Linked DNA regions of Homo sapiens: region 2 is linked to region 1. The links come from fine-mapping of genetic effects on gene expression. Tissue or cell type: tibial nerve. Region 1 holds a variant in brackets; the other region holds the start of a gene. All regions are shown on one strand. Distances are between the middles of the regions.

What was found. PIP is the estimated chance that this variant, and not a neighbour inherited with it, causes the effect.
Region 2: it holds the start of AP4B1-AS1, and the variant in region 1 is fine-mapped to the expression of AP4B1-AS1 in tibial nerve (GTEx, PIP above 0.99). The same link has a PIP of 0.9 or more in sun-exposed skin.

Annotation. Positions count from the first base shown.
Region 1 is chr1:113,899,710-113,902,390 of GRCh38, reverse strand. AP4B1 (adaptor related protein complex 4 subunit beta 1) reads left to right here. Exons shown (of 10, transcript NM_001253852.3): 3 at 506-636; 4 at 1,008-1,155; 5 at 1,991-2,487. It overlaps AP4B1-AS1 (AP4B1 antisense RNA 1), which reads right to left. Exons shown (of 5, transcript NR_125965.1): 5 at 1,154-2,519. Among named protein-coding and RNA genes, the nearest start is that of AP4B1, 3.7 kb to the left of the region's middle. The variant C/T (reference allele first, on the strand shown) is at 1,114.
Region 2 is chr1:113,810,987-113,813,667 of GRCh38, reverse strand. It overlaps AP4B1-AS1 (AP4B1 antisense RNA 1), which reads right to left and starts at 1,056. Exons shown (of 5, transcript NR_125965.1): 1 at 843-1,056. RSBN1 (round spermatid basic protein 1) reads left to right here and starts at 1,192. Exons shown (of 7, transcript NM_018364.5): 1 at 1,192-1,958. The coding sequence starts at 1,256. RefSeq lists enhancers at 792-1,321, 1,058-1,447, 1,322-1,851, 1,828-1,917, 2,068-2,127 and 1 more.

The DNA of each region.
Region 1 (2,681 bases):
TTATGTGTATATCTTTTTTTGCTGCCTGTGCATCATTATTCCAAATGAAAAGTCAAATTAGGCTGGGCACAGTGGCTCATGCCTGTAGACCCAGCACTTTGGGAGGCTTAGACAGGAAGATTGCTTGAGCCCAGGAATTTGAGACCAGCTGGGCAAGATGGTGAGAGCCTATATCTACAAAAAATTAAATGGGCATGGTGACACGCACCTGTAGTCTCAGCTACTAGGAAGGCTGAGGCAGGAGGATGGCTTGGGCCCGGGAATTCAAGGCAGCAGTGAGCTATGATCGGGCCACTGGGTGACAAAGTGAGACCCCATCTTGAAAAAAACAAGAAAAAAACAGAAAAGTCAAATTATGGCTTTTTAAGCTTGATAGAGGCTTTCTGCAATTCTTCATGATCTGATGGGTGCAGCATCTACTAAACCATCTGTTAGGTGAACAGGGGCTGAGGTATGTCAAAATTAGTATTTCAGAATCTGGCTAACTCCAGGATGTGTTGCTTAGGATGCCTGGTGTGCAGGAGTATATACAACAGCCTATTCTCAATGGTCTGCGGGATAAGGCTTCATATGTCAGGAGAGTGGCAGTCCTTGGATGTGCCAAGATGCATAATCTTCATGGAGACTCTGAAGTAGGTAAGTTCAGTGTAATCCATCATGGTCAATGTGCCTCCATTATGTATAACTTTAAAAAAGATTGTGTGGCTTTGGTAGAAAATAATAATGTGGCCCCAGTTCTGTACATATCTCTTTAAGTAGGATGCAGGGCTTGGTATCTTCTGGAGATGAGAAGTCCTTTCTCTGGGGCCCCAATGAGATCCTTTGTATTAGCTGCTTAGAACAGTCTGGACATGGCAGTTTTTTTTTTGCCTTGCACTTTAGTGTGGCCTTTGTCATTTTTGTAGCAGAGAAGTTCAACTTTGTCTACCTGGAGCTATTACTCTGGCTACATCCTTGTTACTCTGAAGCTTTCCTTCTTTATCTAAGAACTTTGTTCTTTTTTATAGATGGTGCCCTGGTAAATGAATTATACAGTTTGCTGCGTGACCAGGATCCAATTGTAGTTGTGAACTGCTTGAGGTCTCTAGAGGAAATTCTGAAACAGGAAGGAGG[C/T]GTTGTCATCAATAAGCCCATTGCTCACCATCTCTTAAATCGGTTTGGATGCCTCAGCACTCTTTTTATTATGAGATCTGCTACCTTGTGGGATCTTGTTGATGTATTAAAGTATTGAACAACTTATGTGGGGTAGAAAAGAAAGTTAACCATTATTATTATTATTATTTGAGACGGAGTTTTGCTCTTGTTGTCTAAGCTGGAGTGCAATGGCGCTATCTCGGCTTACCGCAACCTCCGCCTCCTGGGTTCAAGCAATTCTCCTGCCTCAGCCTCCCGAGTAGCTGGGATTATAGGCATGCGCCACCATGCCCGGCTAATTTTGTATTTTTAGTAGAGACAGGGTTTCACCATGTTGGTCAGGCTGGTCCCAAACTTCTGACCTCAGGTGATCCGCCCGCCTCAGCCTCCCAAAGTGCTGGGATTACAGACGTGAGCCACTGCGCCCGGCCAGTTAACCACTATTAACTCCCTCACATTCCACTGAGAGAATTTCTTTTATTTGCCTTACTTTCCCTTATTGATATAGGGAAATAGAAATATACTGTGGGAATAGGTTCTACCCTTCTCTAGTCATGTCCCCCAAACTAAGCCATTTATAGTGTCTTAAAATGTAAGGAACCTGGACCCAGTGTATGCTGATCATGTCTTTGGTCTTAGAGGAGTGTGCATTTGTATTAACAACTCATCTTGGAATTTTAAGCCTTTTTTGTGTAAACTTTAAATAGTACATGAAAAGTGACTTAATTATGGCACAGCCTATTTTTAAGAATTCTCCCTTTGCTATGATGAACAACCACCTGGTCATATGGCAGTGGCATGGAAATGGTCCTAATTTTGTTGCTAAAATAGCTCTTTTGTTTTGTTTTTTGGATAGAATGTCAAAACTGGACCAATGGGGCCAGGCTGAAGTATTGAACTTTCTGCTACGCTACCAACCCCGCAGTGAGGAAGAACTATTTGACATTCTCAATCTGTTGGATAGTTTCCTCAAGAGCAGTAGCCCAGGTGTGGTGATGGGAGCTACCAAACTTTTTCTGATCTTGGCAAAAATGTTTCCCCACGTACAAACTGATGTCCTTGTGCGGGTCAAGGGACCTTTGCTAGCTGCCTGTTCTTCAGAGAGCCGTGAGCTCTGTTTTGTTGCTCTTTGTCATGTACGCCAGATCTTGCATAGTTTACCAGGTCACTTTAGCAGCCACTACAAAAAGTTTTTTTGCTCCTACTCGGAGCCCCACTACATCAAACTACAGAAAGTGGAGGTGCTGTGTGAACTGGTGAACGATGAGAATGTGCAGCAGGTGCTAGAGGAGCTTCGAGGGTACTGCACGGATGTGTCTGCGGACTTTGCACAGGCTGCCATCTTTGCCATAGGTAGGTGTCTGCTCCTTTTCCTTCTTGAGAACCTAGACCAGCCAGCAAGAAAACTGTGGTTAGAGGAACCATAGAGAGCAAAGGGCATGAATCTTGCTTCAGAAGCAAAGTACTATGCACTAAATAATTGGGTCAGTGACTACAAACACGGGGGAAGAGAGTTTTTTTTTGTTTTTTGTTTTTTTTTGGTCAAG
Region 2 (2,681 bases), 89 kb after region 1:
AGGTAACCATGAGTTACTTAGGGCACCATGAGTGCATCTGTAGACCCAGCTACTCATTCCTTGAGCCCAGGAGTTGGAGGCCAGCCTGGTCAACAGAGCGAGACCTTGTCTCTTTTTTTTAAGAGTCAGGGTCTAGATCTGTCACCCAGGCCAGAGTGCAGTGGTGCGACCACTCCTCCCACCTTAGCCTCACGAGTACCTGGGACTACAGGCGCGTGTCACGACACCCAGATAATTTAAAAAATACTTTTGTAGGGACAGAGGCTCACTATGTTACCAACGCTGATCTGGAACTCCTGGCCTCATGCAATCCTCCCGCCTCGGCCTCCCAAAGCTCTGGGATTACCGGCCTGAGACACCGAGCCCCGCCCCGCCCGTCTCTAAATAAATACTTAAAAGAACCCCAGGTAAAAGCTAAAGCGAGGATGAAATTCTAAATGAATTTCTGAGCAACAACTATCCGTAGTGAGCAGTGATGATTTTTGGTGTGTTCTCCGGTAGGCACACTTTTCAAATTTATGCAATCTTATCCTTAAGATTTGAAAAAAAAAAACTTATAAAAAATCTTAAACGTGGTTTTCCATCTACAATTTTTCGCAACTGTAGGGATATATTCAAAATAAATGCTGGACATTTCCAGGCATTAGAGGGGATGTGGCCGGATGGCGAGGAGGGGCCGTCCTCACCAGGACTCCAAGCAGTTCTCGCACCTGACTTCGTAGGCCTGTAGTTGTAACCATAGCAATGCCCCAGATGCTTGAAAACATTTCTGAATTGCGGCCCTATCATATTTTTACAGCAAAACCACCCTTATTTTACATATTACTAAATCCTCTTTTCACCTTCATTTCATCCCTCGTCAAAGTTAAAAGGATGAAGATTCTTTTATCTCACAAAGGTTATGAGAGAAATATTAAATTTAAAATCACTGTGGAGACCACCTCCTCCGTGTAAAATGAGGAAGGGTCACAGGAAGATGATAATGGGAACGCGCCGCCAGACTCTGAAAGCCATTAACATTGTTTCGGCCGTTAGGGCGGTTGGCGGCAACTCACCGCCCAGCGGCGGTTGCGTCGCAGCCAGAAGCGTGACTTCGCGCACGCTCCCTTTCCACTCCTCCACTCAGAGCCGGGGACGCGGCGGGGGCGCGGCGGAACTACAGCTCCCATGACGCTTTGCGCGGCATAGGGTGCTTTACAATAGAAGCTCGGTTGGAGAGGCCTGCGGAGAAAAGCTGGGAACGGCCGCTTCCGGCATGTTCATCTCTGGACGAAGAACGGCCGACAAGTGGAGGGCGGAGGAGAGACTCCAATGCCCAGCGGGCAGTGCGCGGGCGGCGCTTGCGCGATGCGCGGACGGGGGGGCGGTCGGGCCATTTAAATGTGTGTTTGTGGGTGAAATGGCTGCGCAGGTCGGAGCGGTGCGCGTAGTACGGGCGGTGGCGGCGCAGGAGGAGCCGGACAAAGAGGGGAAGGAGAAACCTCATGCTGGGGTCTCCCCGCGGGGAGTTAAACGGCAGCGCCGATCTAGCAGTGGGGGGTCTCAGGAGAAGCGGGGGCGGCCGAGCCAGGAGCCCCCTCTCGCTCCCCCTCACCGGCGGCGTCGCAGCCGCCAACATCCTGGGCCGCTGCCGCCAACGAATGCAGCCCCAACTGTCCCAGGCCCTGTTGAGCCTCTTCTCCTGCCGCCTCCGCCGCCACCTTCGCTGGCACCCGCCGGGCCCGCTGTCGCTGCCCCTCTCCCGGCCCCAAGCACCTCGGCCCTCTTCACCTTCTCGCCTCTGACGGTGAGCGCGGCCGGGCCCAAGCATAAGGGCCACAAGGAGCGGCACAAGCACCATCACCACCGCGGCCCCGATGGTGATCCCAGCTCCTGCGGAACCGATCTCAAGCACAAGGACAAGCAGGAAAACGGCGAGAGGACTGGAGGGGTGCCTCTGATCAAAGCCCCCAAGAGAGGTGAGAGCAGGCAAACTGCCCGGCTTGGGTTCTAGGTCTCTCTCAGTTCCGATATCCCGCATCTTTAGGACTGAAAGACGCCAAACCCCTGCTTACCTTCTGCTGCTGTACTTCTCTAAGCTCACTGGGGTGGACCCTGGATTTCAGATCGTTGACACGGTTTGATCTAACTACTTGAGGCTTCTCGCTCCGAGGCCGAGCTGTCAGTTGCTAATCCCTTTACCGGTCCCCCGGAGCCTCTCAGCATTTGTTTTCAAATTCTGCAAGGTTTCCGCGCCGCGTTAGATTAGTAGGTGGGGTACTAAAAAATGCCTTTCCAAAGAAAAGGCATGTTCCTAAAATCCCTTCTCCTTGTTTTGCTTGCTGGAGAGCTTTAGTTATCTGCTCTCCCTTGCTCCAGAATAGTCAGGGGTATGGTTCCAGTCTTTCAGGAGGGAATTCATATAAAGGTTACACGACTCACTGGTTGACTTAGCTTCTGCAAGGTAAAATATCAGACGCAGTTTATCTTGGTTCTTTTTAATCTAGAGGTAAAAATCATTTTAAAGTTTTCATATTAGCTATTTAAATTCTTAGAATAGGCATGTGGAAGGTTTTCTCTACCCTTTGATACTAGGAAATAGGACCAACAGTGCCTCTGAAAAGTGGGAATTTGTGCAGTAGATAGTAGAGGCCGGAATTTCAGTTGCATTTGATTCTGTCTAGCACACTTTGTGGATCTGT